Regions from separate parts of the Homo sapiens genome. Here region 2 is linked to region 1. Evidence: fine-mapped expression QTL. A gene starts in region 1. The other region holds a variant in brackets. All regions are shown on one strand. Distances are between the middles of the regions.

What was found. PIP is the estimated chance that this variant, and not a neighbour inherited with it, causes the effect.
Region 2: its variant is the best candidate, but not a certain one, in a credible set for the expression of KTN1-AS1 in whole blood (TOPMed, PIP 0.65).

Annotation. Positions count from the first base shown.
Region 1 is chr14:55,578,032-55,583,031 of GRCh38, reverse strand. It overlaps KTN1-AS1 (KTN1 antisense RNA 1), which reads left to right and starts at 2,940. Exons shown (of 3, transcript NR_027123.1): 1 at 2,940-3,096; 2 at 4,295-4,426. KTN1 (kinectin 1) reads right to left here and starts at 2,825. Exons shown (of 44, transcript NM_001079521.2): 1 at 2,678-2,825. RefSeq lists silencers at 1,507-1,801, 1,981-2,620, 2,681-2,940 and enhancers at 3,381-3,470, 3,481-3,600.
Region 2 is chr14:55,542,263-55,547,784 of GRCh38, reverse strand. It overlaps the pseudogene RPL7AP4 and the pseudogene ABI1P1. Among named protein-coding and RNA genes, the nearest start is that of KTN1-AS1, 35 kb to the left of the region's middle. The variant T/A (reference allele first, on the strand shown) is at 2,331.

The DNA of each region.
Region 1 (5,000 bases):
TTACATTTTTTGATTGGGACAAAGTCATGTTCACAGGAACTGAAAGAGGAAGCAATGAAATGCAATTCTCTTTGAGCATGAGTGATCACCAATGTCACTTCTAGAGAAATAGTTACTTGCTTGTATCCTCTAAGTATACTCTGGATTTACCTTCAAAGTCACTAAAAACAGTACAGAGAACAAGCAGGTCATAAGGTGTATTCTCAAATATATGAACGATCTTGCAAAGCACGATTTTTCTCATTTCCTTATTACATATTAGGTCAGATTCCCAAGAGAACCAAAACCTTCCTAGAACCACTTAAGTTCATTAACAATTTAATATTTTAACAAAGTATTGGAGATCTTTCAGGTTAAAACTTCATTTGCTATAAAAATTATAGGCATACAATTAAAAACACATGTTCCATTCAAGTTAAGAAATTAACTTACACATAGGAAATGTATAAGACACATTCAACTTTTAAAAAAACAATTATGATTCAGTATTCTACGTGTCATCTTAACCATGACAGGCTGATTAAGAACTTTTAACCATAACTTAACATTCAAGTTAAGAACTTAAGAACAGTGACAATCTTAATATGGGTTCTTTAGAAGTCTCAAAAAGGTTTTCACGTCTTAGGCTCTTTTAAAAAGCCATATTGACTGATATTAAAAATATAATTATTAAAACGATCTCCCTACCAAAAGCAGATTAAAGCCTATAAACTAGAAGGGAGACTGAAGTGAGGCATTTTTAGGGACAAACACAACATCAAACAGAAGAGACTACTGGTATTAAAAGAATACAGAAAGATCTAAATTGGAAACAAAATCGTAAATGTCTCTTCATAATGCTGACGCTGAATCATTAAGAGTTAAATACTTGATATTCTTTATAATTTTCAAGTATTAAGAAAATTTTTCAATAGATCTTGTTATATTTTCAAATTCATTATCAGCCTCAAGTAAATCAAGTAGAACACCTTATTCTCTAAGCTCACTTGATAAGGTATTGTTATGTCTGATGAAGGCTACAAAATTAGAAGAGACATTTGAAACTCAATGTTGGGGTGGGAGGGAAACTCATGAACAGACCCAGCTATTTCAGGTTAGATCCTTAAACTAAAAAAAAAGGAAAAAGGAAAAAAAAAAAGAGCCTTTTTTATCAGGCAGCACATCAAATATGAAAGTCTACTGCAAGGCATGTCTACCCAAAATACTCAAGAGTAATTTAGTGTTATTCTTGGGATCATTATCCCAAGTCTCACCAGCTTGGGATCATTATCCCAAGTCTCACCAGCAATTGCTTCGGACCAAACTGGAGACACTGTTGCCATTAGCCTGCTAGGTAAGCTAAGGAAAACAAATGCAACCTAATTTAGCAAAAATTCTAACTTTAAGTCAACTCCTATACAATTCAGAACCTTTAGTTCACCGAAGATGCTTATCTTTAGCTGGGCTGGCCATGAGTGTCTACATTTCTCAAGGCTTTCCACAAAGTCATCACACACACACACACCTTAACAGTTAACTTCAACCGTAGCTCTTTACTCAAGGCTTTCCACAAAGTCATCACACACACACACTCACACACACACACACACCTTAACAGTTAACTTCAACCGTAGCTCTTTAAGCACTACTAACTTAAATAGCGGCTAAGGAATCCGTTTGCCAACACAGTTCTGAATTTAGATTCCTCCTTCCTCCCACAGGAAAGAAGGGCCAACACTGAACAGCTTACTTTCAACCTAACCTAGTCAAGGTGCAACTGGGGCCGGCTGGGACGCCGCTGCCCGCGTCCGGGGCTGCCCACATCTAGTGCACCCAGCGCCTTCACCGCCAGCATGCGGGGCTGCACATCCCACACCAGACGTATGGCTGAGAGCCAGACGACTTCTCTAGACTTCCCGCGTAGTTTTCCGGCGAGGTCCCCAAGGCCAAAAATCTCACTTTTGGAAACTGAAGGGGTCAGGCCGAATCGCTAGGACACACCCCTCGGGGACAGGAAGGGATAACTTCGCCGGTGTCGAGAGTGGTCCATGGATTTTTCCAAAGTCCCCCCTCATGCTGCTTTCCGTGCCCAACCGCCTCCCGCCCTGACCTGGGGACTCGCAAAGGGCAGCGGGAGGGGCGCCGGGGAAGGGGGCGAGCGCCCAGACCGCCGGAGGCAGCGGCGAGGACTGGAACTCCAGCATGGCGTAAGTGTGGCCCAGCTCCGGCCCGGGGACGCCGCCGGAGACGCGCTGCCTCCGTCCACCGGCCGAGGAGGCGGTAATCCGCCTTCCCTCCCGGGGGCCCTCAGGCTTGGCTAAAAATAGGTGCCTCGGTCACCCCAGGGCCCGCTCGGGTCGACCTCGCCTTCGGGAGAGTCGTCCTTGGGGAGGGTGGGGGGTGTCCCTCGGCCGCGCCCCGGGTGCCGCGACAGAGCCGGGGTCGGGCCCAGAGCGGCCCCGCGAGGCCGAGGAGGTCCCTCCGAGCCCGCCCCCTGCGGCGTCCCGGCCCCAACAAGAGCCCCGCGGCGGCAACCGGATGCCCGAGGCCTACCCAGCGGGCGGCGTCCGGGCCCCGCGGCCGCGCCCCCCCGCCCGGCGCGGCCCTCCCGCCTGCCCCAGGACCCCGCGGCCGGCGCCGCCTCCCCCCGCGCTCCCCGCCGCCGGCGCCCGTCCCGGTGCGGCCTGCTCTCCCTCACCCTGTGCGGCCGGGAAAGGAGACCGGGAAGACGCGGCGGCGCCGGCACTACAGCCCGGGCCGCCCGCTCCGAGGCGCCGCCGCCGCCGCCGCCGCCGCCGCAGTCGCTCAGGTGCCGTCGCGCCGCTCGGCAGGAAACGGGCGGCTTCGGGGCGGGGCGGGGCGGACCCGGCACGTCCTGGCGTCTGGGCCGGCGGCGCCGGGAGACCGGCCCCTTAAAGGGACAGCCGCCGGCCCGCCTCTGCCTCCGCGCGCCTGCCCACGCGCTCCGGTACTCGCTGCTCGCGGCTGGCCGGCTCGGGATTCCGGGCTTTCTTCCCGAGACCGCGTCCCCCAGCTGGGCCGAAGGTGGACGCTCAGGGGCTGGAGGCTCAGCGGAATCCCCTGCGTTCAGTAGCCCCGCTCTCCCCTGTCCCGAAGGTTGGTCTCGTCTCGCGCGGCCCTCCCTCCAGGGCACCACCTGGCTCCCCACGCCTTTTAACTTCAGCAAACGGCACTAGATTTACCCCCTGACTATCCCAGATTTCCCCCAGAAATTACTGGAAAACGACATCCCCCGTCCCTTTCTCCAGGGGATCTCTCTGAAATCTCCTTCGGGCAACGCTAGCTACAAACGGAGAAAGAAATTAGAAAGCGACCCAAATAATGGTCGGGCGCGGTGGTTCACGCCTGTAACCCCAGTACTTTGGGAGGCCAAGGCAGGCGGATCACCTGAGGTCAGGAGTTCGAGACCAGCCTGGCCAACATATAGTAAAACCCGTCTCTGCCAAAAAAAGTACAAAAAATTAGCTGGGCATAGTGGCGCACGCCTGTAGCCCCAGCTACTTGGGAAGCTGAGACAGGAGAATCGCAGGAATCTAGGAGGCGGAGGTTGCAGTGAGCCGAGATCTCGCCACTGCACTCCAGCCTGGGCGAGAGAGTAAGACTCTCCGTTTCTCTCAAAAAAAAAAAAAAAAAAAGGAAAGAAAAGAAAGCGACCCAAATGAGTTGTGTGCAAACATTATGAAAGTGTTGTGACTGCCAGCTGGTAGCCATTTATGAAGCCGGGGTAAAAATCTAGAAACTGCTGCGCGAGGAGGGATGGGCCCGGATCTCTCCTTATTCGTTTGCTCTTTGCTGAAAGGATGGCAGCGATCCTCCCCGTCCACTGGCAAGTGAGTTTCGTGTGGATTGTTTACCGATGATCAATCTCTCACAGGAGGCCAGGCACTGCCCCACTACATGTACAAAACACTCCAAGCTGTCCGCAAATGTTATGAAGGCTTAAAATAATCCTAACGATTCCAGACTGTGGATAGAGATAGAAAAAATTAGGACTCACCACCACCACCTCGCCCTACATCTGACAAAGTGGGAACAGAAGCAGTTAAGGAATGAACAGCAGAACCGTTTCTACACCAACAGAATTTCCTGTACATGGGCTGGTTAAAAGTATCCATACTTTTTATTCTAATCATTTCTAAGTTTTCTAGAGCACCTCCAAAATACAAATGAAAACTGCGCAGTGTATAGTGGCCTGAGATATTGAGAATTCTGCCAGTCTTCAGTCACCGTGTTCTCCACAGATGCATTGTCTTATTTTAACTCCAGAGGCGTCCTCTTTTTTCTTTCTCATTAGGATTACTCTGCCCCTCAGCGGTTCCAGTGCCCTCAAAGCAATCTGTCTCTGAAGTACTGGCTATCTTCTGAGCGTGTGCCAGAAGATCCAGCTTTGTTGAAAAGCGAAGCCGTTAGTCCCTTAATACAAAGGGTAAGTGTATCATTTATGTAATGGAGTTTAAGGGCTCTTGATTAGCTTACAAACAACCATGTTATTTCCTCAGGTTAGTACTAACGCAGGTTTTAGGTTAGAATTAAAAATTTATATCATTCATTTTCCTGACCAGTAAAACCGCAATGTCATTTACAGGCAATAATATTTCGGTGCACTTGTAAGTAAGACAATGAGTGGAGTTTAGGATTTTCTCAAAACATACTACTGCTTATACTAAAGGATGACTTTGTATCACCTATTTCGGCTTTTCTGGCGTTTGAACTTTGACTATAGAAAGGGAAGTGGTTGAATGCTTTATTTTTTATAAGCTTTCTATTTATTCACATCAAAACAAAAAGATTTACTAGAGGCCGGGCGCAGTGGCTGACACCTGTAATCCCAGCACTTTGGGAGGCCGAGCTGGGTGGATCACCTGAGGTCGGGAGTTCGAGACCACCATGGCCAACATGGTGAAACCCCAGCTCTACTAAAAATACAAAACTTAGCTGGGCATGGTGGCAGGTGCCTATAATCCCAGCTACTGGGGAGGCTGAGCAGGAGGATCGCTTGA
Region 2 (5,522 bases), 36 kb after region 1:
AGTTAAACTATCCAATAATAGGGGGTGAAGGTATAGGTACAGCTATGTGAATACTAACACTACTGCTTCCTCTGTTTTCTTGACTTCCCTTCCTCCACTACTTTCATTGTCTGCCTTGGTTTCTGATTTAATGAAGCTGACCTGCCTGGACTATGATGACTTCCAAACCTAGCAGGATGCATCATATAGTCATTAGGAACAGTTGGGGTTTAATGGGTTCCAGGGTTTTATAAGGAGTATTCTGTCCCAGTAATCCCTGGCCTCATACGAGAGGACTTGGTGGTTTTGGAAAGAAGGATTTGCTCTTGTTCTTGGCAGTGTGCCAATTCTTTTTTTTTTTTTTTTTTTTTTTGAGACAGTGTTTTGTTCTGTCACCCAGGCTGGAGTGCAGTAGCACGATCTCAGCTCACTGTAACCTTCGCCTCCCGGGTTCAAGCAGTTCTCCTGCCTCAGCCTCCCGAGTAGCTGGGATTACAGGCACCCGCCACCACACCTGGCTAATTTTTTGTGTTTTTAGTAGAGACAGGGTTTCACCACATTGGCTAGGCTGGTCGTGAACTCCTGACCTCAGGTGATCCACCCACCTTGGCCTCCCAAAGTGCTGGGATTACAGGTGTGAGCCACTGCGCCTGGCTGGCAGTGTGCCAATTCTTGCAGGCTGGTTATTTACATGCTTGGCACCATGGTTCACATCATTCAGAACTGTGTAGGCAATAGGTATCCAAACATACCTTATAAGACGCTCCATATTTGCAGGCGCTATTATTTTGTGAATTCTTGATGTAGTCTTATTTGTTGTCCAAATACCAATATCTCTTCGAGCTACTTTCTCTTTATTAATATCCATGATCTGTGAGATATGATTGATGAAAGACTCCATTCTTCAAAGTTGAAAGGCTTGGATGTTCACCAACTGGAGTACATTGTTAGACACTGTAGTTTTTTGATAAGTGACACTAACTGGAGGTCCGGTTATGTAGGCTTTGGTCTCTTCTAAAGCTTTTCTCTTGTCTTCACAGTAGTTCGCCACCTGGTTCAGGTTCTGGTAACTCTCTATCAGTGCCCTCTTGTGAGACAGGATCTCCTCTAGTAACATCTGCAGCTCTGCCATTTTCCACCCTTCTGTATCGGTTCCTCTTGCATTAAAGAAACAGAGGCAGAAAGTTCTACTGAGGCTCCCAGCACCTCATAGCCTGGATCCAAACCACCTTGCCACCTGGTATTGTCAATTTGTTAATATTTTGTTGAGGATTTTTGTATCTATGTTCATGAGAGATATATCTGTAGTTTTCTTGTAATGCCTTTGTCTGATTTTGGTAGTAAGATAATTATGGCCTCACAGAATGAGTAAAGAAGTACTACTTCTGCTTCTATTTCTAGAAGAGACTGTAAATAATTAATGTAATTTCTTCCTTAAATGTTTGGCAAAGTTACCAGTGAACCCATCTGGGCTTTCTGTTTTGGAAGGTTATTAACTATTGATTCAATTTATGTAGTAGACACAAGTCTATTCAGATCATCTATTTCTTCTTGCATGAGTTTTGGCAGATAGTGTCTTTCAAGAAATTGGTCCATTTTTATCTAGGTTATCAAATTTCTGGATATAGAACTGTTCATAATATTCCTTTATCATCCATGTATTAATAATATCTATGGGATCTGCAGTCATGTACTCTTTTTCATTTCTGATATTAGTCATTTTTGTTCTCTCTCTATTTTTCTTAGCTTGGCTAGAGGCTTATTACTTTTGTTGACCTTTACAAAAAACTAGCTTTTTTGTAAAAACTGATTTTATTGACTTTCTCTATTGACTTCCTGTTTTCAGTTTCATTGATTGCTGCTCAAATGTTTATTATTTCTTTTCTTCTGTTTACTTCGAATTTAATTTGCTCTTCCTTTTCTAGTTTACTTAGGTGGAAGCTTAGATGATTGATTGTAGATTTTTCTTCTTTTCTAATATATTTATTTAATGCTATAAGTTTCCTTCTAAGCACTGCTTTCACTGCATCCCACAAATTTTGATAAGTTGTATTTTCCTTTCATTTAGTTCAAAATATTTTTTAATTTTTCTTGAGATTTCTTTTTTGACTTATGTGTTATTTCGAAGTGTTTAATCTCCAAGTATTTGGGGATTTTCCAGATATCTTTCTGTTATTGATTTCTAAGTTTAATTTCATTGTGGTCTGAGAGGAGATATTGTATGATTTTTATTCTTTTTAATTTGTTAAAAATTAAATGGGTCTGCCTTGGTGAATGTTCCATGGAATCTTGAGAAGAATCTATCTTCTCCTGTTATTGGATGAAGTAATCTACAGATACCAACTATATCC[T/A]GTTGATGGATGGTGCTGTTAAGTTCAACTATGTACTTACTGATTTTCTGTCTGCTGTATTTGTCCATTTCTGATACAGGGGTGTTAAAATCTCCAACTATAATAGTGGGTTCATCTATTTCTCCTTGCAATTCTATCAGTTTTCACTTTATGTATTTTGATGTCCTATAGTTAGGTGCATACATATTAAGGATTATTATGTCTTCTTGGAATACTGACCCTTTTATCATTATGTAAGTTGGTTTCTTTTCTTTTCTTTTCTTTCTTTCTTTTTTTTGAGACAAAGTCTTGCTCTGTGGGCCAGGCTGGAGAGCAGTGGCATGATCTCTCACTGCAACCTCTGCCTCCCAGGTTCAAGTGATTCTCCTGCCTCAGCCTCCCGAGTAGCTGGGATTACAGGCATGCGCCACCATGCCCAGCTAAGTTTTTTATTTTTAGTAGAGACAGGGTTTCACCATGTTGGCCAGGCTGGTCTCGAACTCCTGACATCAGGTGATCCACCGGCCTCAGCCTCCCAAAGTGCTGGGATTATAGGCATGAGCCACCACGCCCAGCCGGTTGGTGGATTTTTTTTCCTCCTCTTAGTACTTTTAAATATTTTACTCCATTCTCTTCTTGTTTGCATGGTTACTGTGGAGAGGTCATATGTAATCCTTATCTTTCTTCCTCAAAAGGGAGATTATTGTTTCTCTGGCTCTTTTCAAATTTTTCTTTGTCTTCATCTGAAATTTGAATATAATATGTTTAGTTGTAATTTTTTTTTTTTTTTTTTTTTTGGCATTTATCCTGCTTGATGTTCTCTGAGCTTCCTGGATCTGTGCTTTGGTGTCTGACATTAATTTGGGGAAATTCTCAGTCTTTATTGCTTCAAATATTGCTTCTGTTCCTTTCTTATCCTTCTGGTATTCCCATTTATGTATATGCTATACTTTCTGTAGTTGTCCCACAGTTTTGAATATTGTGTTCTGATTTTTCAGTCTTTTTTCTCTCTGCTTTTCAGTTTTACAAGTTCCTATTGCCATATCCTCTAGCTCAGAGATTCTTTCCTTAGCCATATCCAGTCTCTAATGAGCCCATCAAAGGCATTCTTCATTTCTGTAACAGTCTTTTCATATCTCTAGCATTTTTTTAGAATACTCATCTCTCTGTTTATGTTATTTGTCTATTCCATGTTGTCTACTTTTATCATTAAAACCCTTAGCTTATCGATTATAGTTTTTTTGGGAGAATTTGTATTATTTTAATTATTTTTATATACAGAAAACTCAACAGTGTACCTTTAACTCACTTTGGTGGCAAGTTCTTTAGCCTTTGCCTTTTCCATATGGGCAATGTGAGCCACAGACTTGGGACCCAGGGCCTTGCCTCCCCAGTGACGGCAGATCTCATCAGATCTGTCATTGTAATTGGTCCTGATAGCTTCCACCAGCTTAGCCAAAGCCCCTTTGTTTTCCGAGTTAACCTGTGTGAAAGCAGCATTGGTGCAGGTCTTCCTGTGGACTAGACATCCCAGCCTTGCCTTCCTTTTGATAACGCAGTAAGGGACCTCCATTTTATGGCACAGGGCAGGCAGGAAGACAACCAGCTTGATGGGCTCGACATCCTGTGCAGTCACCACGGGCTGAGCCTTCTTGTTCTCCACCAAGGTGGTGACGGTGTTAACTCCTGCTCGAAGGACCGGTGGTCTCTTAGTGGGGATGCCCCCTTTGCCCAGAGCTTTCTTCTCAGCCAGGGCCAACAGCCTCTGCTGCTTCTCTTGCTTTGTCTCTGGGCCAGCTTAAACAGCTGAGTAGCTGTTTGGCCTTCCAGGTCCTGGGTAAACTGGTTAATCGCAAGAGGCACTTTCAGCCGCTTATAGAGAATGGCTCTCTGCCCTCATATAGTGGGGCCATTTCACAAAACGAGTGAGCTCGCTTTCAGGCCGGATGTCCTGTCCGATGCCAGAATTCTTAGGCTTTTTCTCAAACAGGGATTCACCACTTTCTTGGCCTGCTGCTTCTTTACGACAGCAGAGGCCAGAGCCACCTTTTTGCCCTTGGCCTTCTTTTCAGCATCTTGGGTGGCAGGAGGAGAGAGCAATTATAGTTTTTTAAATTCCTAGTCAGATAATTCCAACATTCCTGTCATATCTGAGTCTGGTTCTGATGCTCATTCAGTCTCTTCAAACAGCATTTTTTGCCTTTTAGTATGCCTTTTAAGCTTTTGTTAAAGGTGAACATGGTGTACTGAGTTTTAAAAAAAAAAAGTAAAGTAAATAGGATTTTAGTAATGCAGTGGTAAGGTGTCTGGGCGGAGGGGGAGGAAGTGTTCTATAGTCCTACGATTAGGTCTCAGTTTTTATTGTTGTTGTCTTTCTTTTTTTTTTTTGAGACAGAGTCTTGCTCTGTCGCCCAGGCTGGAGTACAGTGGCGCAATCTCAGCTCACTGCAACCTCTGCCTCCCTGGTTCAAGCAATTCTCCTGCCTCAGCCTCCCAAGTGGCTGGGATTGTAGGCATGCACCACCATGCCTGTCTAATTTTTGTATTTTTAGTAGAGACGGGGTTTCACCACGTTGGCCAGGCTGGTCTCAAACTCCTGACCTCTGGTGATCCGCCCGCCTCAGCCTCCCAAAGTGCTAGGATTACAGTTGTGAGCCACTGCACCCAGCCTGGTCTCAGTCTTTTGTTGAGCCTGTGCCCCTGCACTGTGAACTTCACAAGTGCTTTTCAGGTGTTTTTCCTCTTAGGTGAGACAAGATAGCTAGAGGAGGCTGGAGTTGGGTCTTTCACTTCCCCCAGGTAGGTTAGGCCGTGATAAAGCCCCAGCAAGTAGGGCTCTGGTAAAATAGTTTCTCCTGAGGCAGGCCTTGTTAGGAAAAATAAAACGCTCTGGTGTATTTCAAAATGGTTTCTTTTTCCCCTCCCCCTGCCAGAAGCACAATATTTATGATCTAATATCGTATGTATAGTTGCAATGTTTTTGGCATTTATCTTGCTTGATTTTGAGCTTCCTGGATCTGTGGTTTGGTGTCTGACATTAATTTGGGGGAAATTCTCAGTCATTATTGCTTCAAATATTGTTCCTATTCCTTTATTATCCAATAACATTATCCGATATTTATTGTGAGGAGCTGGTAGAGTTCCCAGAAGTAAAACTCACAAAAGTGTGCCCCCATCCCCACCTTGACTGGGTCTCCCTGGAATTTTTAACTC